Homo sapiens: one gene and its partners. The protein of the gene in region 4 purifies or fractionates together with the protein of the main gene of each other region. This does not show direct contact. Each region holds a gene or a part of one and is shown on either strand. Other genes may lie near its edges.

Region 1 (7,032 bases), on a different chromosome or scaffold from region 4:
ACTCTGTTGCGACTGCACTGAGGGGTACGCGAAGAAAGCATGTGGAAATGAAATACAGAAGTCATTATATTTAGGAAGAGTTCCTTGCCTCTAAGAGTTAGGCGCTTCCAAATGAGAGGCTCTAAGAGGTCACCATCCCCCTTTCCTATGCTCTCCAACAGGTCCTAATGGCTGCGGGAAGCATGTTCACCTCACCTGGTTATTTCTTCTTTCAGAGCAGCAGGGTCTGCAGGATAAAACTTCACACGGAAGCACATGGTGAATGGAGGCTGGGCTGCAGAGAAAAAGAGGTGCTCATCAGGGAAGACTCTCACCCAGAAGAGGACAGGGCTCTTCTGCCCACTAGCATGAAGCAGCAGAAGAGAACCCTCATATATTTAGGGCCAACTTATACTCAGAACAGTGGGAAATTATATATGTAGATCAAAACTTGAGATAAGTGGGAGGTTTCGTCCCACCCTCCCCAGGGGTGTGGCTTGAGTCTTTTCATGGAGAATACTTACATCTCAATTGTTTCACCACAGACTTTGTAAATTCCAGCCAATGCTGAAACAGAGAACACAGAACATGAAAACCCTAATGAGAAGGGCTGTAAAATATAACTTGTTTTCTCCAACTTAAAAAACTAGACAGATTGTAGCCTAGGGTGAAAGCAGCCCAAAAGCTTATGAAAGATAAGTTTGGTGAGTAAAGAGTGATATGATTTTCTGAAATGAGCTCCCATGGAGCCAGCTGTGAAGGGGGGAATAGTTCCAGCTTCAGATGCCATTTATGGGCTTCCCTGGAAATGCTGTCTTCTAAAGCAGGGTGCCAAAATTCTGAGCCATGTTTTTGGCATGCGATTAAGGCACAAGCGACTGCATGTATGTGTGGCGGGGACAGAGCCCCACCTGGGTTGAGTCGGGAAATACTGACTTTAATGGGTGGTGTGTGTTTCTGTTATGCACCAGCTTTTTTTTTCTTCTTTTTTTGGCAGGGGAGTGGGAATAGAAGATTTTGGTAGCAACTCTAGAAAGTAGTGAGAAGTGGAAATTTCCTAAGTCAGGGATGGCTGGTATATATTCCATCTTTCTTTGAGTAACATAAATTGCCAACCCTTGTGTTAGAAAACACATACTCAGGATTCCTTGGCATCCAGTGATGTTTTAAAATCTAAATCTCAAATGATAACTAACCACAACCAACGTGTAGGATAGTACCTTCTTCCCCTTGGATTTTTCAAGGAGGCAGGACATAGAGGCAGAATACATTTTCCCATGGTACTTAACGTCTGGGGGAAGCAATGAAACCATTCTATATGTGTTCCTTAATTCTACATGGGTCCTTTATAAATTTTATTATTGATGTTTGTTGCTTTTTGCTAATCAAGATTAGGTAGGACTGCTATTAATTGGAGTTTGATTATCCAGAGGTAGCTTAACATTGCCAGATGTAAGCTCCATGAAGGCCCAGAACTGTCAGTCTCGTTTACCACTGTATCACCAGTGCCTAGCACAGTGTTCAATAGGTAGCTGCTGAATGGCAAAGGGACTGGGCCCATACTTCCTTCTTTTCTGGCTACTTCAATTTAGTGTAATGTCTTGGCAGAGTCCTCCCTCTGGCAGGAGAGCAGCCAGGGCGCTGCAGTCAGCATCCTGGCCTCCCTTGATTCCCAGTGATCACCTTCTGGGCTGGGCCATGGGTCATGCAGTTAATGGACCCACTAAGAGCCAGTTCTTCTGTCAGCTCCACATGGATAATCTGGACTGACATTCTGCTCTCCTGCTTCTGCTGATCTGAGTTCCCACGAGGCTGGCAACTCATTATAGCCACTCAATGTGGTTAAGAGGCCCTTCTCACATTACACGGCCCACCGCGGCTCAGCTTCACAGGGAGGCAAAGGCAAGAGATGAAATTGCTCAGAAACAACTGGGGTTCCAGGGTATGCCTGTGAAGACGGAGGAGGCCTATCTGTTCAGAGCACACTGGAATTGTGGACAGTGAGGAGAACATAGCCAGTGCCAGGGATTCAGTACACAGAACAGCAACACCCCCAGACATTAGACTGATAGATTAAAAGAAATAAACAAAGGAAGGTAGAAATTAATGACTGTGAGATGCATTATCAGCAGAGGGCAGATAAAGCTGAATGACAAAAGCCTATTCCCCTTGACAATAGCTAGAAAGAAGATTTTAGTTTTATTGTAGTGAGAGCTCAAGAAAGGACTGAGGCTGGAGGATAGTAGCAAGGGGTGAGAAGGGACTGAAGAGCTGTCACAGCTGATCCATGGGATTTGGAGTCTGGCAGAGAAATCTTGAGAGGAACCCAAGAATATGGTGATGGCCAGAGTGGCTTTTTGCAAATGCCTGACCAAATCGGTCCCAGATTCACTAGCAAACAGACAACATGGGCTTAGGGAGGAGGGATTAAAAGAAGAGGAAAAGAAGATTCAGAGAGGAGGGTTTCCTCCCCTATCTGAGTGAATGGGCCAATGTGGCACAATCTTCAGACTCTAGGGGCTTGAAAGGGTACAAAGCAGAGGCCAAGAGAAGGTGGAGGCCCTGGGCCCGAGTCAGGCATCCTGGGGAAGGAAAGTAAGGGCAGCTCCTCCAGGAGAGACCAGGAGAGCTTGCAGATGCATGGAGGCTCCTGCAGAGCAAGGACTGACATCGGATGGATGTAAGTGCTGGGTTCAGACTGTCTTGAGACCCAGGGAAAGAGGTTTATTTTAGGCCCTTACACCCTGAGGGAGCAGGGGAGCTCAGCTCCTCCATCCCTACCATGAATCAGTGGACTAAGGACAACTCTCTACAGGTCCCCATTTCCCTACAACCCTCAGTTACTGTCTCAAGCCTCTCTGCTCTCCTTAACCCCTCCCGCAAGGCACAGAATTACACAACTTTCAGAGGCTATCAGTTATACATTCAGCATGGAATCTCAGAAACCACACTGGCCCTGGAGTCAAACAGGTCTGAGCTCGAGGCTGGCTTTGCCACTGACCTGGGGCAAGTTACTTAACTTGTCTGAGACTTTATTTACTCATCTGGATAACAGATATTATCATTAGGGATACTCATCTCATTTTGTTAAGGATGAGATGGAATAACATACGTGAAGCTCTTAGCTTAGTGCCTGGCACGACTCAGTGAGCAGTATACATCAGCTGGAAGAATTAGGTTTGTGTGCAGCGCAGAGCCTGGCAAGCAGTAGGAACTCCATAAATGTTTACTTCTCCTCTTTCCCATGTTCTTATCTCTCTCTAGTTCCTTCTCATTTTAACCTTCACCACATCCACATATTCTCTTACTCTCCTCAAGCACATTCTGACCTAACTAAAAAACCAATGAACAGGATACAATTCGCCTTTTTTTCTTCATATACCACCACTCTAGGGGATGAAGAGATCTTGGAGTAACTGGCCCTCCTTTTTTTTTTTTTTTTTTAAAGACAAGAGTCTTGCTCTGTCTCCCAGGCTGGAGTGCAGTGGTGTGATCTTGGCTCACTGCAACCTCCACCTCCCGGGTTCGAGTGATTCTCATGTCTCAGCCTCCCAAGTAGCTGGGACTACAGGCACATGCCACCATTTCCGCGAATTTTTGTATTTTTAGTGGAGACGGGGTTTTGCCATGTTGCCCAGGCTGGTCATGAACTCCTGGGCTGAAACAATCCGCCTGCCTTAGCCTCCCAAAGTGCTGGGATTACAGGCATGAGCCAGTGCACACAGCCAGCCTTCCTTTTTAAGGATAAAAGTTTGGACCAAACAAAGAAACACCATCATTACCTCTCTACTTTGGTGGGGATGCCAGAGAGTACATCTCCACAAAGAGCAAAGGGTAGATGAAGGGAAGTTATAGAAACTGCAGGTGTCTGCAAGCTGGGAGGCTGGGCAAATGGACGTAAGAAATACAACACTATAAGCCATTAACTCACTCATGCATTCATTTCTTCAGAAAATATTTATTGAACACCAACTACATTGTAGGCCTGTGCTAGTTAAATGGGAGATAGTGATGAATGAGACAAAGTCCAGGCCCTCATGGAACTTACATTTTTGCAGGGAACACAGGTAATCACAGAATGATGTAATAAGTGCTATAACAGGGTAGCAGAGGGCACATGGGGGCCCATAGGAGGATCCCTAATACAGAGTGGGGTTAGGGGAGATTTCCCAGAGGAAGTAAAAGTCTAAGCTGAGACCTTAAGTGTGAAAAGGAGTTAGCTGGAAGAAGGGTGTGGAGTGTGGAGCGGTAAGGAAAAGGAGAAGATTCTAGGCAGGGGAACTCTATAGGTGAAGGCTCTGTAAAGAAAGAAGGTATGATGTATCTGGAGGGCAAAAGTATTACTGTCTGGCGGGACCACAGCAGGTTGGGGAGATGAAGCTGGAGAAATAGGCAGGGGCCTGAGATGATGGACTTGTTCCTGAATCTGTCTGGAATATCAGCACCCTTGGCTATCAGAATGCCCTGTGTCTGCAGAGCTGCCTATGCTGTGTAGAGCAGAGCAAGAACTGCAAGATCTGCAAGGTGCTGAAAGGCCCGCGCTGGTTTGGCTCTGTCTGTACTGCCTAGATTGGGTTGGTATGGCACCTTTGGTGAGGCCTTTCCTAACCAGTACAATGTGCTTCAGCCTGCTTACTAGAAAGTGGGCAGGAGAGGCTCACCCTGTGACTTGGGCTCCGAGACCACAACTCCAGCCCAGCTGCTCTGCCTCCAACTTTGTGCAAATCATTTAAGCTCCCTAGCCTGCCATTTCAGCAACTGTAAAATGACAAGCTTCTCCAGGTGAGCTCTAGCCAAGGTGCCTTCCAGGTCTAATGCTATGATCTGAAGAGACGACATCCAACTGCAGGGTCTGGTTGGTCCCTGATTCCTGAAGCTTGACTTTGAATATGAATGACAGTTCAAGACCTCAGTCTTATTGACTAGCCCTGTCCTCCTTTTGTGCTTTGAATATTGACTTACCCGCTGCTTATCTGGGTCTACAAAGCGGATACCAAAATAGTCTTTCTCAAGTAGGTTCAGATGGTGGCAAAGAAGGTCAAACAGGTACTGGCCTTTGGCATCTCTCTGCAAAGAAAGAAAACTCCATTGAGAAATGAGTGGGTTTCTTCAGTGTAACTTTTTTTTTTTTTATAGCCATTAAAAGTTGTTTGTAACTGTTGCATGTGTCTATGAAAGGGGTGAATGTCCATAACTATGTCCTCCACATTGTGATACATCACTCACTGTCTGGAATCCAGAGGCTTTTAGCACCTGGAAGGAGCCCAAGAACCCTTCCCACCACAAAGATGTCAGAGAAGTCAGGGTAGAGTCAGGTAAGCCCAGTTCCCATCTCAAATGCACAGAGAGCTTTCTTAAACTGTGGGTGTAGGGAATGTCAGTGTGGAATACAGCAATAATTACACCAGGCCCAGCTGACTGAGCCTCTAAAGTAAATCTTGAATCCATTCACTTCTCTTCCTCTCTGTTACCAACACCATAGGTCAAGCCACCACCATCCCTCAACAGGACCACTGCCAGAGCCTTCTAACTGATCTTCTGCCTTTGCTCTTGCCCTTTCAGTCCATTCTCCGCACAGCAATGAGGGTGTCCACAATTTAGACATCATCTCTTTCTTGCTGAATAAGTGATCAGGCACATTGTAGGATATTTAAACAAACAAAAGGATATACTATGAACAGTAAGTCTCCCTTCCACCCTGGCCACCCTGTGCCCCAGTTCCTCTCCCTAGAAGCAACTGTTATCAGCTTCTTGTATATCCTTTTTTTTTTTTTTTTTTTGAGATGGAGTCTCGTTCTGTCTCCCAGGCTGGAGTGCAATAGCGCAGTCTTGGCTCACTGCAACCTCCACCACCTGGGTTCACACGATTCTCCTGTCTCAGCCTCCCAAGTAGCTGGGATTACAGGCATGTGCCACCACGTCCAGCTAATTTTTGTATTTTTAGTAGACACGGGGTTTCACCATGTTGGTCAGGCTGGTCTCTAACTTCTGACCTTAGGTGATCTGCCTGCCTCGGCCTCCCAAAGTGCTAGGATTAAAGGTGTGAGCCACCATGCCCAGCCCTCTTGTATATCCTTTATGTGATGTTTTATACACAGGCAAACCTACATACATATACATCTCCTCTTTTAAAAATACATTTTGTAACATATTTTTAAGCTCTTTTCTCCCACTTAGGGTATCCTGCAAATCCTTCTATGGCAATATATATAGATATGCCTCACAGTTTTTAACTGCTGCATGTCACTGCAATGAATCTAAAATTATTTACCCAGTTCCATATTGATGACATTTGTTTCTAATTTGCTATTACAAACAATGTGGCAGTGAACATACAATGATCTTTATGTTACTCACTTCTCTTAATTCTTGTTGCTCTCAGAATAAAATGAAAACTCTGATCATGGCGTCCCAGGCCCTATACAGCCTGGCTTCTCTCTGCACTCACCCAAAATCATTTTCCTCACTACACTTCAGCCATGGCCTTTCCGTTCTGAACTCCCCAAGGCTTTTCTGCCACTGTCTTTGCATTCCCTCTGCCGGGAATGTTCTTCCTGCAGCTCTCTGCAGCCACTCCTATTTTTTGAGGACTCAGCTCAAATGTCCCCTCTTCAGAGAGGCCTTTCCCTATAGTACAGCCCTTCCCAGTTACTTTCCATCTCATTTTGCCATTTATGTCCTTCATAGCACTTATACCAATCTGTAATTATCTTGTTGATTTGTTTAGTTATCTATTTACTATCTGCTTCCTTTCTAGACTGTAATTTTCATGAGGTCAGAATCCTTCCCCCAGAACTTAGCACAGGGCCTGATGCATGGCAGGCAGGTCCTCAATAATTATTTGTTGAATAAATTACTGAATGAATAGAAGGGAAAAGGTTTGCTAAAAGATTTCACAAAATGGTGAAAAGCTAGGCCGTTTATAACCCATAACCTTCTACTTCAGAGACCTGCCTGGATGCCAAGGGTGAAGTGGGAGGAGAATGACTTGCAGGAACCTGTCAAAACATCTGGAGCCTGCACAGCATCCATCGCTGGCCTGTCCCCAGTGGT
Region 2 (7,032 bases), on a different chromosome or scaffold from region 4:
CAAGGAGCCTAATATCCTTCAAAATAACTATATTTAGCAGATATAGAGTGACTTCTTTACCCAGGTTCTCTCAAAGTATCTTCACAAATGTGAGAAACTCCTTCAGTTCTACGATGAAAGAGCTCTCCATCTCCAGAGGAGCTACACTTAGATGCATAAGGCTGGTGGAAGAAGAGAGGGAATGGGGGTGTCAGCCATTACCCTCTACTAAGAGTCACTAAAGAACTAAAGTGGGAAAATTGTTTTATCAAAATTTTCTTTAGCCCTAACTTCCCGAGAACACGTTTAAAAAATTAAATCAAGGTACTTCTGTGCTGTGATTAGTTTCTTTCAAAACTTTTGAGTGCAGGGATAGCATTTTCAAATATCATACATACAACTTTTACTCTTCCACAGAAATACAATCAACTTTTAAAATGTTCGATTTCAGGTACTATACTGAAGTAGAAAATGTCTGCATTATGGTAACTGAACCCGTTGTTTTCTTCTAAGGTAATTTTACTTTTCTTTTCCTTGGTAATTATGGTAAACTATTCTAACATGTTCCAATCCCGAGTAGCTTCCATTAAATGTCTCTGCCCATGACCAGCCCAAGTATCCTGATTGTCAAATACTCTACCACAAAACCAACAGTTAAATTTAGCCTTCAAAATATTTTCAGAGGTAGTCTTCACAATCTGGTAATTGTTTTTGCTTGTCTTTTTGAGTGTTAATTTTAGCACAAATCTTTCTTTCACAGAACTAACAGGTTTAAATGTTTTGTGCCTCTTGGAAAAATCATCATAAGTTGTTTTAGGAGGGTTATAACAAACTGGTTTCAGTAAAGCATTTATAGTTCTTTTTGACAATGAAACCTTAAGTACATGTCCATTAAATTTAGCAATAGTTTTCATTACACTTACTACTTCTGGTGCATCTGCGTCAGGATGATTCAAAACTACAACTGGTTGGTTTCTCCTAGGACATTTCACAAGCTGTTTAGAACTAAAAGGGAAAAGCCGCAAAGTTCTGATGGAATCTTTTGAAAGCCTAGGTCTGCTAAATCCAAATGTTTCACGGACATCTTCAGGTTTTGCCTTTTCTTTACACTTTCTATGCAATGTTGCTTTTCTTCTTGGAGGTTCTTGGTAACTATCCCTACACTTTCGTTTACAGTTTCTGTTTCTAGATACAAAGGCAGTTTCAGAGTCTTTACTTCCATGAGTTTTTGTTTTTGAAAAAATTTTTTTGGAAGTCTTTTTTCTATTGAAGTTCCTCTCAATTCTACAATTTGTTTTACACCTTAATACCCTGGACTCTGAACAGTCACTGACACATATTGGTTCCTCAGAAGATTCTGGGCATGTTGCAGTAGAAGTTATCACAATTTCATTTGCTGGCATTAAGTCATCTAGTAAGAAGGGTAAGGCATCTCTAGATTCTGGCTCTTTCTGCTCTCCTCCTATAATCTGATTAGATGGTACGTTGTCTTTTTGCAATGAGGATGCAGAGTTGCTTACTGACAGATTATTAGCAGCAGTCACATTTAAAACAGGGTTAAAAATTTTCAGCAATATTCTTTGTGGTGTTCCTTCAGGTTTCTTTGGCTGTATATTTTGATAAGTACTATTTTGGACTAATTTGGGCTTAAGCAGCTCAGTTTTATTTGGCATCACACACTTTAAAAAAACAGCTTGTTTGCCATCAGGCAAGAAGGTATAAAGAGGTGGTTTTGGAAAAATCTCATTCTGCTGTTTTACTGAATCGGAGATATTCAACTTAGTGCTCTGTTGCTCAGATAGCATGTTAGGAATAAGAACAGCTTTCACAGAACTCGTTGGTTTCAAAATGTAAGGGCCTTTTAATGGCAAAGTATTTTCTGAGCTACTTTTCATGCTCAAACAACTGCCAATGCTGGAACAAAGTCCAGGTGTAAGACAATTATTGTTTGGTTCTACCTTCAAAATAGGTGTTTTGCAAGGCTCCTTAGTCACAGTTCCACGAGCTGGGGCACCCTCGGTTTTGACAGCGGAAACACCTTCAAGTTTCCCATTATTAAGTGTTAAAACCATCCCAGGTTTCTTGTTTACAAAAAGAGAAGCAGGGATACCTTGTGAATTAACCAATGGAAGTGCATTTCCAGGAATAACTGGTAGCCCAGGCTTGTTAGTAATGTTCAATGGTATTAAGAATCCTTTTGAAGTCTGAACAATTATAGTTTTTTTTTGTTCTGAATTTAAAAGTGGACTCTGCATATAAAAAGAACCTAAATTTTGTGTGGTGGCTCGTAGTTTGTCTTTTACAAGCTGCTGTGTTATTATCGCATCTGACTGAGTCTTAAGTAATGTGCCAAAACCTGAAATTCTAGGCATCTTCTCTGAATCTCTCACATCTTGTGGTATTGATGACACTTGTTTTTCTTTTCCAAATTTCAAATTCAAATCATTTGTAGGCACATTAATACCCACACTGCCAGGTGGAACTGGGAAGATGCCTTGCACTTTGAAATCTTTCGAAGATTCAACAATTTTGCCTTCTCTCTCGTGTTTTTGAAATGACTGGTCACAATGAAGTGGCAAGCCTTTATTTGGAGTGTTACTAGAGTCTTGTTTTACATCAGGTTTTATTTTCAATACATCCTGAAGCAATTGGTTTACTTCAGGTGGCAGAAATTCTGATGCCTGTTGGCTCTGGAGAGAGAAAACAGATGTGATTCTAGGCATCATAGGTGAATCGACATTAGAAAAGTCTTCCCATTTAGATTTTTCAGTCGCACACTCTAAATTTTGATTTTCATTACTGTACAGGTTTTGTCCATCAATGTTTTGTCCTTTTTCTAAAACATACTGTTCTTCAATTTCAGATTTTGCTTTTAAAGTTCCATCTTTATCATTTAAAAGGCTAATAGATGCTAATAGGCTATCTGGTTTTGAGCTCTCCTGCCTCACTAGTGATAAAAATGATTCACTAATTGGTTGTTGGACAACTGTTTTGCTGGATGAAGATTCTCTTTGAGGGTTTTCATACACTGCTGTTCCTGAAAACCTACGACGTTTATTAGAATTATTCACTTTTGAGTAATTATGAAAAGGTAATGATCCTTGGTTGGAGGATTCAACAGGTAACTCACAGTTGCCATAATTAATGCAATAATTATGCATATCTCCACTGTTGTATGCATTTGGTTTGGCAACACAGTTGACTTTATCTGGACTTTTAATGGTGGTACCTAATACCTCGGGGTGACTCTGAGTGAGATGATTTCCCCAGAAGTCAACATTATCTCTTGTTTCAAATTTTGTGGTCAAATTCACTGATGCTGTAACCAATTCTGATGTTGCTGACAAAGAAGATACACTTTTCTCATAATCCATTGTTTGAAGCATATTATTCCTTTGAGATATCAAAGTCATTTCTTTTTCTGAACTTGCTTTCCCTGAAAGTATAGAAGATGAACATGAAAATGGAGTAGCTGCTTTCATATAAACTGTGTCATTTAACTCAGTTGTTACTCCTGTTAAAAATCCATTAGTGTCCAAAGTCTGGGGCTGCAAATTAGCAGTACCGTCCTTTGCAGCACCTGACTGTGAGCCTGGTGAACATACATTTTGTTTGATAGGCACCAATTTTAATACAATATGCTGTTTTCCATCCATCATCTTGAAGCCCATAAACGTAGCATTATAGTTAGGGGAAACTGCTAGTTTATTATTTTTCATCATTACATTTTTCAGTGTAGGTCCTAGTACAGCAGTCTTCATGAAACCTGAACTAGCGTTTGGTCCCTCTTCAGCTCTATTACCTTGCCCAGTGGACAGAGGAGTTGGCTTCTCTGACTCTGATTCAGGGGCTTTATCATTATTCTCACAGTGTAGTCTTTCATCCTTTTCTTCACTTAAATGCTCTTGAACAACATGGCTCTGGTCTTCAGATTTAGTCTGTGTTTTGTTCATTTTCTTAAGCACTTGAGTGTTCTTTTCTATACTTCTGTCACTTCCACTGTTAATTTTCTTACGTTTCCAGAACGTCTTCCTTGATGCACCTATTTTATATCTTTTCAGTATTAGCTTAAGTCCTGCAGAAGTCTTTGCCATTCTTTTTTCATATTTGTCTTTTTCCAGTTTTTCTTTTGCATATAAATGTTCTTTGTGCAAAGTTATAACATGTCTTACAAGGTGTTCTCTCCTGGTGGCACCATAGCTACAATATTGACAAGTGAAGGGAAAAGTACCAGAATGAATATGAAGGTGCTTCTGAAGCTCTCCTTTGGTAAAACATACATGATGACATTTACCACACTTATAATGAATTTCATTATGTCTATGAATGTGCTGAACAAATGTGCCAACATCCTGGGTGGAGAACTTACACTTTTCACATTGAAAATTACCATTAACACAATGTGTGGATGTGAAATGCTTTGTCAAGTTCAGTAAAGTATATACACTCTCATTGTTACAAATGTCACATTTTACTAAAGTGCTTCTATGGGTTCGTCTGTGTTGTTTAAATACCTGAAAGTCATTTGCTGAAAAGTTGCACATTTCACAAGGATATGAAGGTAATTCGCCATGGTGCCACATTTGAAAGTGTTTCTGCAAATCATTTGGGCTATATCGAGTGTTGTCTCGGCATTTTAAACAGCTGAAATTGAGTATTTTTGCAGACATTTTTACACCCTCTTCTTCAGCTCTCTCAGACTTATGAAGCAATGTACACTCCTCTACACAGCTTACAGTCTTTATACTGATAGATTTTCTTGCAGTCTGCTGTTTACTCTGAAATAATTTTCTGTATTTGTCAACTTCATGTTTCAATAGGACTTCATTTGGAATATTTATTTTTGGCAAATCAATTTTCACATTTTTTAGTGCATAATGAATACTTCCTGAAATTTTTGGTTTAGGTGCCGACCTATCAACTATCTCATTTTTCACATCATAATCTTTTTTTAAAGTAGTTTGTTTTTCATCACAAAATAACTGTTTCTGTTCAGATGGCATGATTTAACCAAAAAAGTCCCAATTTCTTTTTTTCTGAAAACTCTTGAAGTTATCTGTAATTTAAACAGGAAACGATACTGTGTAGAGACATCTTCAATATACAGGATTTTTCCCACAATAACTCACCTAAAATTAAACAAAGAATTGAAATTCTCATCACAAAAATAATAGTAAATTCGTATCTGTAAGTTCATTTTGGCACAAAGTAGGAATGTTAATCAAAAACATAAATTAAATATACAAAAGACTTTTTAAGTATTTTAAGAACAGCTTACCAAGAAGTAATAGTTTGAAGTAAAAATAACACTAATCTGGAAGTCAGGAAATGCAAGCTCTAGTTCCAGCTCTGCTGTGTGACCTTGGGAAAACTTCAACTTCTCTGGACCTCAGTTTCCTCATCTAAAGAAAACCACAGTTGGGTAAGTACGCTCAAGCGCTAAGATTTTTATATTAAGGTGATAATACAGTTTTTAAACAAGATTTTAAAAATCTTAGAATCCTAAGAAGTTCCAATTACACACATGTGGTTTATCCATATACTATTAACTTTTTCATTTGCTTAGTTGATCTAATAGCTATTCCCTGTGAGAATCCCAACAGACTTCTCTCCAGATTTTCTATTTCCTTAGTTCCTCAGGGATAATCTACAATTAAAACAAAAGCTTCATTCATCTAACGGAAACAACCAAAGACGGTATCTGCTTATCATTACTAACAAGTTAGAAACCAAACAAAAAGAACAAAAAGGAAGAAATTAAAAAGAACAGCAGCACCATTTCCCTAGTGTAGTCCTAAAGTCCATCTACTCATTACCTTTCTGGTTCCCTACCATTTTGGCTATATGAATTTATATCCTCAGAACTCAAGCCAGATGACAGCAAGGAAAAGCCCTTGGCAGATTAGAACATACCCATCACTACCTACCTGCATTAATTCAAGCACTTACTGGTCATGTTACTTTAGACAAGTCTCAACCTCTGTGTCTCAGTTCCTTCATCTGTAAAATGGGGGGAAAAATTAGTACTTCCCCTATGTCTTTCACAAGGTTGTTGTGAAGATAAAATGAGAAAATATATGTAAAAATATCCTTTAAAGTGCCATATAAATCACAGCTACCACTATTACTCTATGTGATTACCACGTATGGGACATAACAATATATTGTTGAGACAGGAATCTGAATACTGAAGGTTCAGTCATTAATATATCAAACTGTATTATTAGAAAAATTACATGTTTTTAATTTTGTGCTTTATATATATATATATGTATGAATAGACAAAATCAGATAAGCTAAACAAAACATAGTATAAATCACATTAAGCTCCTCATCCATAATGTCTATCCAAAGGTCTCAGCTTTAAACTTCAATTAATCTAAATACCTACAAACTTTACTGTTTTAGAAATCCTTTACTGAGGGAATCATTAAAAGTTGAATTACATATTAAGAGATCTATAATAAATTAATCAGAAGGGTACCAATTATTGAATTGTTTTACATGCCATGACTAATACAGTAAAATGTGAATCCAGAATGGGATGTTTGTCATAAAACTTTAGTATTACAAAGAAAAGGTAACACAAGATGAAGGCCTCATGAAGGGTTTTTAGGGCCCTAAAAGAAGAAAAGCTGAAAAAGTAACTGGAACTGTCAGGAAACCAGGAGAAAAGGCTGAGAAGAATTATCTGATGGCTATTCTTAAACTAAGATGGGGCTTACAGATGATTTCAGAATGACTAGCCAAGCAGAGCACTTGTCTTTCTAGGAGAATGAACTAGACACTAATTGAAGGCTCTACAATCCAACAGTCAGGTTTTAACTCACTGCTTTGTTAAGAGAAAAGAAAAGAAAAAAAAGAAAAGAAGGCAGGAAGGAAGGAAAAAAAAGAAAAGAAGGAGGGAGGGAGGGAGGAGAAAGAAACGAAAGAAGGAAGGAAAGGAAGAAAGGAAGAAAGAAACAGAGAAAGAGAAAGAAAGAAAAGATTGATGACAGGGTCTCACTCTGTCGCTCAGGCTGCAGTGCAGTGGCACCATCACGGCTCACTGCA
Region 3 (5,283 bases), on a different chromosome or scaffold from region 4:
ATTAAAACTCTCCCTTGATGAGAAACAGCCAGCTGAGGGAGGCCCACGAGCGGCCTGTGTAACCCCATGGGTGATCTGGACACATCTGCACCCCCGCGTTCAGCTTCGCGGAGACTGAACTTGGCGGGGAGTGGAGGGGTGTGGTGCAGACCTGGCTGCAGCAGAAACACCCCGCAGGGACAGTACTCTGTGATTCTGACCTCAGGTGCTGGGACGGGCAGATGGTTTCCCCCGCCCAGCACCCCAGTCCTGGTCCCTGGTCCCTCTCTCTGTTTCATCCCAGGAAATGAGCAGCTCGAGGGTGAGCAAGTGACAAGTTCCTGAGTCACTGGCCCCAAAACCAGGTGCAGTGTCCTGTCTCCCAAGTGTGTGCACAATGTATATATGCACTGGAAAGGAGGGAGAAGGCAGCGGGTCACTCGCCAATCGCAGGGTTCTCAGACACAGGAGAGAGCGGGATCTTAATGAATTGCATTTCCTGCAGAGCCTCTAGTGCACAGGCCAGTTCTCGGCAGTGGCTTTTCAGCACAAGGGCCTTGCATTGAAGCTCCCTCTTCTGAGATTTCACCCAGCCTGATGAGGCCTGCATGGTTCCGGCCTCGTCATCCAGTGTAGATACCAGTCTTCCTATTTTTGTGACATCTGCACATTTGGGGTCATTCCCTATATCTGCATAGGAGCTATTGCTAACCTTGTTAGGGAGAAACATGGTCTAATGAGAAAGACAGACCCCTAGGCTCAGCTGGCCCTGCCATCCTTCCAGAGGATTCCTCTGCAACTCTAGGCAAGCACCCAGCTTCCTGGGCTCTTTTTCCTCATCTGTGAAACTTGCAGGGTGCAGTGAGGTTTCAAACCAGTGTGATAAGTGTTGGCCTCACACCTGGCCCAGGGGATGCTGGGAGAACAGGAGCACTTGTTAATAACAGAAACACTGATGGGACCGAAGCCAGTGCACACACCAGGAAACCTGCCCGTGGCTGACACTGTCCTCCAGCCTGCATTCTGGGGAGGCTGTGATGGGCACGTTTGCCAACCCCCCCCCCCCAGTAGAGCCCAGGACCCTCCTCTCTCAGCTTGCCAGTGCCCTGCCCTCCACATGGCGGGGAACAGCATCAATGAGGTCCTTGCTCCCTGAGAGCCTCTCTGGAACCTGCCCACTTTTCTCAACATGTATATTCTGCTTTGTAGTCTGAGGTTGATTTTCTAGAGGCGAGGAAGGGGCTGAGTTCTGCCCTCGTGCTGTTCGCTGGTGCTGATCAGGGCCAAGACGACCCTTCCCTCTCCCCCACAGCCTGTTGAGGTGCCGTTGACGTGGACAGCGCCCCTCCCTTAAGATGCCCCCTTGCCGTTGCCATGAGCCGCTGTGACTCACGCGTGCACTGGGCCTTGCTTGGTGCTCCCCTCCTCCTCCTGTCTGAGATCGGAGCTTGCTGGAGAGCACCCCAGGTCGCCGTGCTTGGCTGCAGGCCCGTCCCTCTCTCCCCATCCTCGGGTTCCCAGCGTGTTTTGTGCTTGAACTTGGTGGACTCATCTTACCCCACAAGAGTGGCCTGCTCAACCTGCAGCCTCCAATGTGCCGTAGGCGCTCTAGGTCCCCGTGGCGCCCAGGACACCAACTCTCCCTCCCTGCACTTAGGATGTTCTGGAAATGAGAGGAAATCCACATTCCTGCCCCAGGAGGTGGGAAGCCTGGCAACGATGTAGCTTCCCCTGAGATGCGGTATGATCAGGCCTCAGCAACTACTCAGGAGGCAAAGGTGTTTGGAAAGCAAACCCCAAACCTCCCGGCACGGCATGTGCTCTGCTTCCGTCCCTCACCGCCTGCACAAGGTCGTTGAGACTTTTCTAGAACTCCCCGGGGTTGTATTTATGGCCTTCAAGCAAACAAATTGAAAAGCAGTCAAGGAGGAGTTCAGATAGAAAAGTGCTGGAGATACACATCTTTCCTTCAAAGGAAATGTAATTTATTTCCAACCGCTGCCTCAGACGGGGGTTTCACATGTTGTGAAGTCACATCTTGAATGACTGTCACCCTCATCCTTCCCCAAAAAGCTAAATAAGGGCCTTTGGCATCAATGCGTGCATTCTCCACCTTTCCGCGGCTTGCGCTTGGATTTCTGAGTGGCTTTCTTCAGGGAGCCCTTGTGGTCATGTGTCTTTAATGCTGCTCCCCATGCCCCCAGGCCAGGCCAGCACGCTCAGGTGATAGCGAGTGGGGCCAGGAGACCCCCCTGCCCTGCCCAGTGGACAGATCTGCCCCAGCCCTGCTGTGGGGACGGGCCCTCTATCATTTAACCACATACATTAGGTTGCTTTTCAGCAAAATGTCAGCTTTCCTCCCATTATGCAGGAGAGAGAAGGGGCGCAGGTGTATCTCCTTAGAGTACACCTTGGAGCTGGATCACTAAGAAACAGTCCTCAGACTGGTCCTTCCGACACAGGCAGAGAGTGAACTGGATCGCTGGCCCCTGGGATGCTGCGCTGTCTGTGATTAGAGAGAAGTGGCCAGTGTCCCGTCTGTGATTAGACAGAAACCCCTGTGGCAGACTCCTCCCCTCTCCATGAAGAAAGAAATATTTACTTAGATATTACTGTTTCAAAACACAAACTTTATTCCCCTTAGAGAAGAAATACTGCCCTTAAATAGACTGTTGAAATATTAATGGCCCCCCCATTTAATCAGTGTGTCTGCGGCTTTCTTCGCGTCACATGTCCGCATTGGCAGGTGATTCTGGAAAGGGATTCTGGGAAACCAACAAGTCTTTTTTAAATCTTTGAGTTGTATGAGAAAGTATTTAAGTTCACCAGTGTAGTAAACACCCACCCCAGAGCAGCGGTAAGCAAACCTAAATCTGAAAACCCATTCTTACTGTCTTTCACCATGAGATGCTGGTTTTGGTGTAAAATGACAGCACTTGGTTTGGGGTTTTGCACCTGTTGGGTAGAACTGTTCTTGTCTGAGGTCCTCACCCTCTACAGATGGGCCTCAGGGCCTGGAGGTGGGCAGATGGGGCCAGAGTGGCCAGCAGAGACTTGCATGGGCTCTGAAAGCCCCAGAGCTCAGGCCTAAGGCTGCTAGGTGAGACCAGCAGGCAGCTGTGGCATCCGACCTTGGGACGCCCAAGCTGGGCAGCCGCTCCATGTGCCCCAAACAGGATATCCTCATGAATGTGAGGAGAGGCTGGCTCAGGGCTTGGTTTTCATTTTGGCCTGGCACAGGGTACCTGTAGGGAGCACTCCCCCAACCTGAGGATGGTGAAACCATATGATAGAGACTCCTTGTCGAAGTCCACATCGGACTGATCTAGAATGCCCCGTGGGGGGATTGCATGGCCTTTGCCTTGAGATGCAGGTGAAAGAAAGGAACCAAACAAGGCATGAGTGTGTTGGGGAATCTTCCCAGTGGAGCAAACCCCCTTAACACACCAGCTGTTGGGAACAGCTGCCCCTAAATCCAATTAAACCCTCATCTCCCTGGTGCTGAACAGTCTACACTGGCCCAGGAAGCTAACGTCTGAGCCGCTTGGAGAGCTTTGGTAAACAGAAGACACTGGAAGCCCACTCGGTCAGCAGCTGGGCATGAGGATGTCAGGGGCCTTTGGACTTGAGGAAGGACAGTCCAGGTGCATGGAATCCTAATGGGCCTCATGCAGACACTGGAAGCAGCCCAGCCCCCTGCCCAATACCACAGCCCTGGGGTGTCCCCTGACATTCCTGGAGGTCCCTGGGCAAATGCATTTCCTGCCTGGGTTCTCAGGGTAGGAGAACAGAGAAGGCTCCAAGGGTGTTGGGAGTGAGCCAGGGGCTGGTCTGGGGAGTGGGTCTCACGCACTGCTCAGGTTGGCACGAGGGACCTCCCCCATCCCAACCCAGCCCCAAGGGTCCCAGCAGGGCTCTCAGCATGGCTGTTTTGAGGGTACACAGGTGGCTGGAGAGGGGTGGGGCAGTTGCATGGTGGGTGGCAAAGTGTGCATTTAGAAGCTGCTTCGTGGCGTTAAGAACGGGGGGAGAGGGACCAGCACTGTAACGTTAGAAATAATTCCTTCTTGCAGACTTGAAAAGCATCAGTTTCCCTCCCACGGCTGGGTTTTTGTGTCTGAAATACATCTAATTCTCCAGACTGCAGCCCCTCTCAGCCCCGAGCACCTGAGCGCTGGGGAGGCCCTTATTGAGCTCAGCCTGGAGAGGGGAGGGTCGCACGGGTCCCGGGGGCAGGTCTCCTGCACTGGCTCTTCCCTTCTGCCAGCTTGGAATTTGGTTCTCATCTTGCCACAGGGGTGCGTTTCCTAAAGGGCAGCCGGAGCAGCTCAAAGGTGACAACTGAGATGCATTTCTAGGCAGGGGCAGGGAAGGCCAACCCACCTTGCAGCCAGTTTTCTGTTTCTGTAAATAGCAGTGTATAGAGATGGAAGGGCAGCGTGGGTGTATCCACAGATGGGTTTAGGTTTTTTTTTTGGATGTTTTCTATTACCTCATTCAGCAACTTTATGTTTCACAATGACTCAATGATGCTTTATTTATATTGTTTGTACTGTAATTAAAACCATTGACAGACATTTCACTTTGCTTGTTATTTCATATGATCTTGTTTTGATTAAATATGCCAGTTTGTATTTTCCTGCCTTGGGATTTTTTTGTGTCCGCTGTACAGTATTCTAAGGGAAAAAGAAAAAGAAAGATGTGTAAAGTAACAGAGAGAGGTGGCTATGGTGTAGAGACCTCTTTCTAATAAAGAAATGAAAATATGTCTACACCGCTTCCGTGGAGTTGTTGTTTTTTGTTTTTTGTTTTTTTTTTTTTTGGTGGCGTTGGTCATTTGTCACAACTAATTGTGTTTCTAAGCCCAGGAAAGGTAAATCAGAGAGAAAAGGGGCTCTGTCTGCTGCGGGCAGGGATTGCCCCAGGCCCAGGCTGCCCCAGGCCCGAGGGACTCAGCACACGAGTTCACAGACGGAATGAAGAAAGAGACCAGGAGTGTCTCTTCTGACTTCTTCCTTTACAAGGACAGAAACTCCAAGAGAATGTTCTTTGCCCAGCCAGGGTTGACTGGGCCCAGAACTTCCAGATGCTTCTGTATCTTTGCACTGTGCCACACTGCCCCAGGTGTGTCGTAAGAACTATTCCCAGCAGGTGGCTAGCAGTAGAACCATCCCAGGACTCTATTATTAAGACCGTTATTATCATTAATATTACTGTAATTTTTGCCTACAAACTACATTATATCTTCCCCTCCAAAAAAAAAAAATGAGAAAACTGACCAGGCCTGGTGGTTCACACCTGTAA
Region 4 (7,032 bases):
GAAAAGAAATAATAACAAAAAGCCTACCAGGTCTCTCTCTATATATGTATATATATATGTATGAGTAATTATCTGAATGCAAATAAAAAATTGAAAGCAGAATCACAAGATATTTTTCATGGGATATATGAGAGGGGAACACTGATGTGCCTAGAGGACAAAAAAGTAGAGACAATCAAAACAGTTTAAAAAAAGAAAGAAAGAAAAGTGCACTTAAAAAAAGCATTTATGTGAAAAGTTATGGGGCTCTTTAAAATAATATCTTGTGGGTATATGTATACATTAAACTAAAAATTTTTTAAATTTAAGATTACGATTAGCCTCATTAAAACAAACATTTTCTAAATGTTTAAGTTCTCACAACGTGAGGAATTTTTTGTAAATGCTCAATTGCAAGATAAATACTTAGAACTATTAAGAATACAACAGAAACAAAATATTCTTGTTTTGCACATTTCATTATGGTTTGTGAGTTAAGATTTCACTCTGAAGGATAATCCAACACATAATGTCCACAGCAGAGTTGTTAAATTCGATAACAACTAGCAAAATTAAAATTAAAGTAAAGAATAATTTGAAATTGGCAGGAAAGATGTCTTAAACAAACAACTGCAAGGAAGGCTAAAGTGTTTACTAAGACAATTTTTTAAAATATAAGCTTACCTCTTTCAAGCATTCTGAGTCCTCCTCCCTCTGGCCTGTTCCCTCTGCAGAACCCAGACAAGGAGGAAGGCTGGGACTGAAGGCCATGAGGTCCGTCTTATGCGGGCCCTCCCCAGAGCACACCCTCGGCCGCCTCTGCTGCGAGTACGACCAACTCCCTGCCGCGCTGGAGCACACTAGAGTGGGCTTGCCCGGCGCGCACGCGCCCTCGGTGGGCGGTGCCGAGCACCGCAGCGCAGTATACAGCAGCAACGTGAGCACCAACAGGCTGGACACCGCGCAGATGGCAATGATCAAGTAAACATTGACATCCACCAGCGCCGCTTCTGGACCCACAGCGCCTGCCGACGCCCTCGACGAAGCCTGTGGCGCTTGGCCGCTCTCCACCAGCGACAACAGCACCGTTGCCGTGGCCGTCAGCGCGGGCTCACCGTGGTCCTTCACCAGCACCAGAAGGCGGTGGTGCGGCGCGTCCACCTCGTCCAGAGGGCGCGTCGTGCTGATCTCGCCAGTGTACAGCCCCACGCGGAACGGGATGCGCGCGCCGACCGCCGCCAGCTGCAATTCATACGAAAGCCACGCATTGTAGCCCGAATCGGCGTCCACCGCGCGCACCTTCGCCACCACGTGGCCTGCACCCACCGACCGCGGCATCAGCTCGCTCACTGTGCCTCCCGCGCTGCCAGCCCCGGGCGTCAGCAGCGCCGGAGCGTTGTCGTTCTCGTCCAGCACGAACACCTGCAGCGTCACGTTGCTGCCCAGAGGCGGCACGCCAGAGTCGCGCGCGCTCACCTGGAACTGCAACAGCTCCAGCTCCTCGTGGTCCAACGGCTGCAGCGCGTACACCTTGCCGCTCTCCGCGTGCACCGACACGTAGCTCGACAGCGCACGCTCGCCCACCCGCCGCTCCACCAGCGAGTAGGAGACCAGCGCGTTCTCCTGTGCGTCCGCGTCCTGAGCAGACACCGTGAAGATGTGGCAGCCCGGCGGATTGTTTTCCTTCACGAACACCGTGTACTCGGGCTGCGCGAACGCCGGCGCGTTGTCGTTCACGTCGGCCACCCCCACCGACACGCTGGCCGTGGCCCACAGCGAAGGCGAGCCCCCGTCCCGCGCGGTCACCACCAGTTCATAGGCTGATACGCTCTCGCGGTCCAGGGCGCTGTCCAGCACTAATGAGTAGTAGTTCTTGTAGGTGGACACCAGCTTGAAGGGGACATGCGGCGTCAAGGTGCAGGTGACCTGTCCATTTGAGCCAGAGTCACGATCGGACACACTGATTAGGGCAATAATGGCGCTAGGCTGAGTGTCTTCTCTGATGGGGAGTGACAAAGAAGTGATGGTAACCTCTGGGGCGTTATCATTTACATCTAGTACTTCCACCAAAAGGGTACAATGACCCGCCATTGGAATATTTCCTTTGTCAACTGCCTCCACGGATATTTCATATAATTTCTTTTCTTCGAAATCTAGTTTGCCTTTTGTCCTAATTTCTCCATTGTTCGGATTTATGGTAAATGCATATACCACTGCAGGCCATACAGGCCTTCTAAATGAGTAAACTATATCTCCATTTGTACCATCATCAGGATCTGTGGCATTTAGCTTGATCACTAATGTTCCATTGAAGGCGTTCTCTAACACCGTCACTTTATAAACGGATTGGTAAAATTCCGGGGCGTTGTCATTCACGTCCAGAATCGTGATGAGCAGCTGAACTGTGCCAGTCAGCTCGGGTTTACCTCCATCACTGGCTGTCAGTAATAAACTATGTTCCTGAATTTCCTCTCTGTCCAGTGTTTTCCTCAGTACAAGTGATAATGAAGACATTTGCTCAAGACTGTTTTGTGCGTCCAAAGTGAAATAATCGTTGGGATCCAGTCGGTAGGTCAATGCCGAGTTTACTCCAATATCTGCATCGGATGCGCCATCTAGTGGAAATCGAGTTTCCGGAGGTCTAGATTCTGCAATGATTATTCGTTTCTTGCTTTCAGGGAATATGGGCGGGTTGTCGTTAATGTCCCTCACCTTCACCTCCACATGGAAAACCTGCAGAGGCCTGTCCACGATCACCTCCAGGTGGATGCTGCACTCCGCGCTCCGCCCACACAGCTCCTCGCGGTCGATCCGAGAATTCACAAACAAAATGCCATTCTGCAGATTTACCTCCAGAAGGTCCCCGTGTCTTTTGGACGCCACCCGGAACAGGCGCGGCACCAGCTCCGCCAGCTCCAGCCCCAGGTCCTGAGCGATGCGGCCCACGAAGGTGCCGTGTTTTGCTTCCTCGGGGACGGAGTAGTGGAGCTGGCCACTACCCGTCTCCCAGGCTGCGAGGATCAGAAGCCAGAGCAGTAGTTGCCGCGGTCTTGGGCCTCCTTGCCAGGAAGACAGCATGGTACACTCCAAAAACCTCAGAGCTATCTGCAATATATACAACGCCTTACCTCAAACTGTCTCTCAAGGCCCAATTTTTATGGCTTCCTAGTGCGGAAGGATTCGCAAGAGGTATTCCGCTTTCTGCTATATTTTCTGCAGGAAGAAAGAAACGGCGGCTTTCTTCGCGGAAACGTTCTCAGTGAAGAGCGACACCATGCGCATGAACGTGTAAGTGTAAGTATGACTCAGTCTTCATATTTTCCATTGATGTAGTATTTTTTTGCCCCTTGCATTTCCTGACATTTTCACTGCAAATATGTAATTGAAGATTAAATGTTTACCTTCCCAGAAACAGCAAATCACTGCATTCTGCTCAACATTTTATATTAGCTGACAATTGGTTGATGAGTTTCATTTTGCCACAAATTTATTTTTCCATGTGTAAGAATTCCATGCAGAACTTTAAGACAAAGAATATTCGACACTCGTTTTGGGACAATTGATCGGTAGTTCTGCATAGTCATGTAGGTTTTTGTGGTACTGTCCTCTTCCTGTAATATTTTTCAAGACCTCCTCACACAACAGCCATTGACTCCAAAAGGAAACATAACAATCACATAAGAATAAAATCGGTGAAGGTGAAAAATATTGGTAACTGATATATCAGATTTTGAATAAGCACATCATATTAATAAATTTCCCTCAATGTGACTTGAGATGTAGATAAGATATTTATATTCAAAAGAAAGTGTTCAGTCAATATGTGTGGGATTTTGTATGTGAGTGTGTGTATGTGCATAAACACAATAATTTAGCCACAACAATGCTCTAAGGTTTTGGATTCTGTTTTTATAAAATATGCCTGGAACTAATATCCTATTGATTTAATAGAATTTAACTTACCGCCGCCGGCTGCAATTCATACGAAAGCCACGCATTGTAGCCCGAATCGGCGTCCTGGTTAAATAGAATTTAACCAGGAGGTTAAAGTTTCCATTTTCTCTCTCCATCTTACTTCATCATCACTGAGTAAAACCTTGCCGTCATTTAAATTGACTTTAATTTTCCAAGAAACAACAGCTAGACAAAGATGTTAACATATCTTTAGCAAGGAAAAGAGGAAGAGGATCTTACTTTTATCTATTGTTATAACTATCTCTACCAAGCCACAAAATCCCAGGCCAAATGGTGTAATGAAAAATATATCATAGCTCCAATAATTATCTGGCCTGTTCTGTGCACAACTCTATAGGAAATGACTGTTGGGTTTATTTCCATAGCTCTGCTCTCCTCTGAAAATTTAGGCAGAGTATTTGGTATTCTCTTACCCTCATCATCCTCTCCTGCTCCATTACTTTTACTAACATAGTATTTCTCTTCTAATTCTTTCTATCTGGCCCTACATTTCTTTATTTACCTCTTCACATAATTAGACTACATAGTCAACCATTTAAAATATGCCCTTCCAGACACTCTAGAGTCATTCACCTATTTATATTACTCCTCTAACATTCTTTTTAGCCTCCAACACGCAGTTACACTGACAATCCATTTTCTCTATGCTTCCTATTAAGCTGCTCAACATTGTCACTTAACCATGACTATTCTCTTCAAATTTACTCTCACCTTTACCTCAGTTGGGCTCTCAAGTGAATTGATAATTAACTCCTCCCTCTTGCTTACAGAGATTCTTCCATATTCTCTTTCCTCTCTTCTCAAATTCTCAACCTCATTTCCATCAGTTCACTTTCAGATGATTCACACATTGAGAGATGTGACCAAACAGAAATTCAATTGCTCTCTTCTTGTGTCATTTTTCCTTATATTATCTGTTTTCATTTTCTACTAGTTGTAAGGAAAAACTGTTCCCGCTTTTAAGGTCAACCATATGCTCTTAAAAATTATTTTCTATTCTCTCATGGTTTTCATCTAAATTCACCTGCTGCCTGTCTTATTTTTAGTATCTTATTTTTTACTTGTTTCTTTCACTCACACTATGAAGATAGTCAAACTTCTTTAACTAAAATATGTATACATACACACACGCACATACACTAATTTAAATGTTCTACTTCTGGTGGAAAACCTCTTCTGTTTATCTTTTTCCCTTCATGTTTAACTTCTAACATATACTTGATATATTGCACTTTGAGCTTTATTTCAGCTTCCTGTTGTCTATCCTTCTATGATTTTAAGCCTACTATAATAGGTTGAATTGTGGTCCCCAAAAAGTTATGCCCACATCTTAATCCCTGGAACTTGTGGATTTTACTTTATATGGTGAATAATATGATTAAGTTAAGGATCTTGAAAGGAGTTTATCCTGGATTATCCAGATGGGCCCTAAATACAATCACATGTACCTTTGTAAAACCAACACATAGAGAGAGACATGGAGAGGAGGAGGCAATGTGACCATGAAAGCTGAGAAGGCTGAGATGGGAGTGGTACAGCCACAAGCCAGGGAACACCAACAGCCAATAGAAACTGGAAGAAACAAAAACCAGATTCTTCCCTGGGGCCTCCAAAGAGAGTATAGCCTTGACAACACCTTGATTTTGGACTTCTGGTCTCCAATACTGAGAAATAATAAACTTTTGCTGTTTTACAGCACCCAGTTTGTGTTCGTTTGTTATAGCAGCCACAGGAAGCGACACACTTACCCACCTAAGTACCTGGACACATTGTTTTTCACTTTTCAATGTCTGTCTTGGCAATTTTATTCTTTCATGGATTATTTTTTTCTCTAAAGGAGTTGTTCCCAAAATCTATATCAATAATCTCTTCTGAGATCCAGACCCATATTTCCAATCACAACGGTATTCTCTTAGGACTTCAAAGTAACATTTTCTTAAATGTTCATCTCCATTCCCTACCTGCTCAAATACACACAAACTGTTTCTCCAACCTTGTTCTGCAGGTTGGTTAATGGCAATGTCATCTTCTCAGCTGAACAAACTAAAAAAGTGAGAGTCAACTTCTACTTTTGTTTTTCTCTTATCATTTGTATTGAGTCTGTCATTATCTGGCTGCTTCTACTTTGCCAGTGCCTCTTGTATATGTCTTTTTCAATTCATTTCTACTGCCATAATTTAAGTCTCCATTACTTGATACCTAATTTATTAAAAAAGAAATAGCTTTCCTGCCTTCACAATCTCCCCTGCTCTAATCCTTCAATTACACCATATACTGTGCAGTTGTTCCTACTTATCTCTCTTAACACTTTCTTGGTAAAATGTTGTCTATCTTTCAAGACACTCTTCAATAAAACATTATCTGATTTCTAGGGCATACTCTCATTTCTAAGATAGAGGGGAATGTCCAGGTAATACATTTCAATACCATATATTTATTTAAAATTATTGATTGAAGCTGGGAGTGGTGGAGCCTGCCTGTAGTCTCAGCTACTTGAAAGGCTGAAATGGAGGATCAGTTGAACCCAGAAGTTCTAGTCCAGCCTGTGCAACATAGCAAGACCCCCATATGTTTTTAAAAAGTGATTGAACATATACTATATTCCAGATCCTAAACTAAAGATATGTAAGAAAGTAGATATAAGGCTGGAAATTTTAATGCCTTTACTACCAGGCTGGGGTATGTAAGACTTTATTCCCTGGTTAAAGAGAAGCCTCTGGATATTTTTGTAGAAATAGAAAGTTAAAATATGTAAAATGCACATTAGAAGATTCACTTGGTAATAGGCACAGGGCAGTGGTATACTATGATAAGTTTGGGATCATCTGAAACTGGTTTGAGCCACAGTTGGTTACCAACTGTACTGTATCGTACAGATGGTTAAATATTTTTAAATTGAGAAATGATTTTATTATATTTCATGTAAATAAGAATAGTACAGTATCTATTCCTACTTGAAATAAAGAAGATATTTTGTGAGCAATGAAGAAAATCATTCATCATATGTCAGACATATCATTTATATTATTGTGATAATACCTGGAATATAATGTGAAAATGTCTAGATTGTACTGAAAT

Evidence for each region.
Region 1: the proteins of PCDHA12 (region 4) and FRMD5 purify together in Homo sapiens (affinity purification with mass spectrometry; 2 studies listed by BioGRID and IntAct, with this or other methods). This does not show direct contact.
Region 2: the proteins of PCDHA12 (region 4) and ZNF518A purify together in Homo sapiens (affinity purification with mass spectrometry; 2 studies listed by BioGRID and IntAct, with this or other methods). This does not show direct contact.
Region 3: the proteins of PCDHA12 (region 4) and AGAP1 purify together in Homo sapiens (affinity purification with mass spectrometry; 2 studies listed by BioGRID and IntAct, with this or other methods). This does not show direct contact.

Annotation. Positions count from the first base shown.
Region 1 is NC_000015.10:43,919,264-43,926,295, forward strand, and holds part of FRMD5 (FERM domain-containing protein 5), read right to left. Parts: intron 5,047-7,032; coding exon 4,942-5,046; intron 547-4,941; coding exon 504-546; intron 275-503; coding exon 196-274; intron 18-195; exon of another isoform or gene 1-17. UniProt on the Homo sapiens protein: May be involved in regulation of cell migration. May regulate cell-matrix interactions via its interaction with ITGB5 and modifying ITGB5 cytoplasmic tail interactions such as with FERMT2 and TLN1.
Region 2 is NC_000010.11:96,154,273-96,161,304, reverse strand, and holds part of ZNF518A (zinc finger protein 518A), read right to left. Parts: intron 5,980-7,032; 5' UTR 5,929-5,979; exon of another isoform or gene 5,382-5,928; 5' UTR 5,258-5,381; intron 5,109-5,257; 5' UTR 4,983-5,108; coding exon 531-4,982; 3' UTR 1-530.
Region 3 is NC_000002.12:236,127,043-236,132,325, forward strand, and holds the end of AGAP1 (arf-GAP with GTPase, ANK repeat and PH domain-containing protein 1), read left to right. Parts: 3' UTR 1-4,751; downstream 4,752-5,283. UniProt on the Homo sapiens protein: GTPase-activating protein for ARF1 and, to a lesser extent, ARF5. Directly and specifically regulates the adapter protein 3 (AP-3)-dependent trafficking of proteins in the endosomal-lysosomal system.
Region 4 is NC_000005.10:140,878,294-140,885,325, reverse strand, and holds part of PCDHA12 (protocadherin alpha-12 isoform 1 precursor), read right to left. Parts: intron 3,203-7,032; exon of another isoform or gene 3,058-3,202; coding exon of another isoform or gene 634-3,057; exon of another isoform or gene 446-633; intron 1-445. Other genes in the region: PCDHA13 (protocadherin alpha-13 isoform 1 precursor), read right to left, coding at 664-3,057. UniProt on the Homo sapiens protein: Potential calcium-dependent cell-adhesion protein. May be involved in the establishment and maintenance of specific neuronal connections in the brain.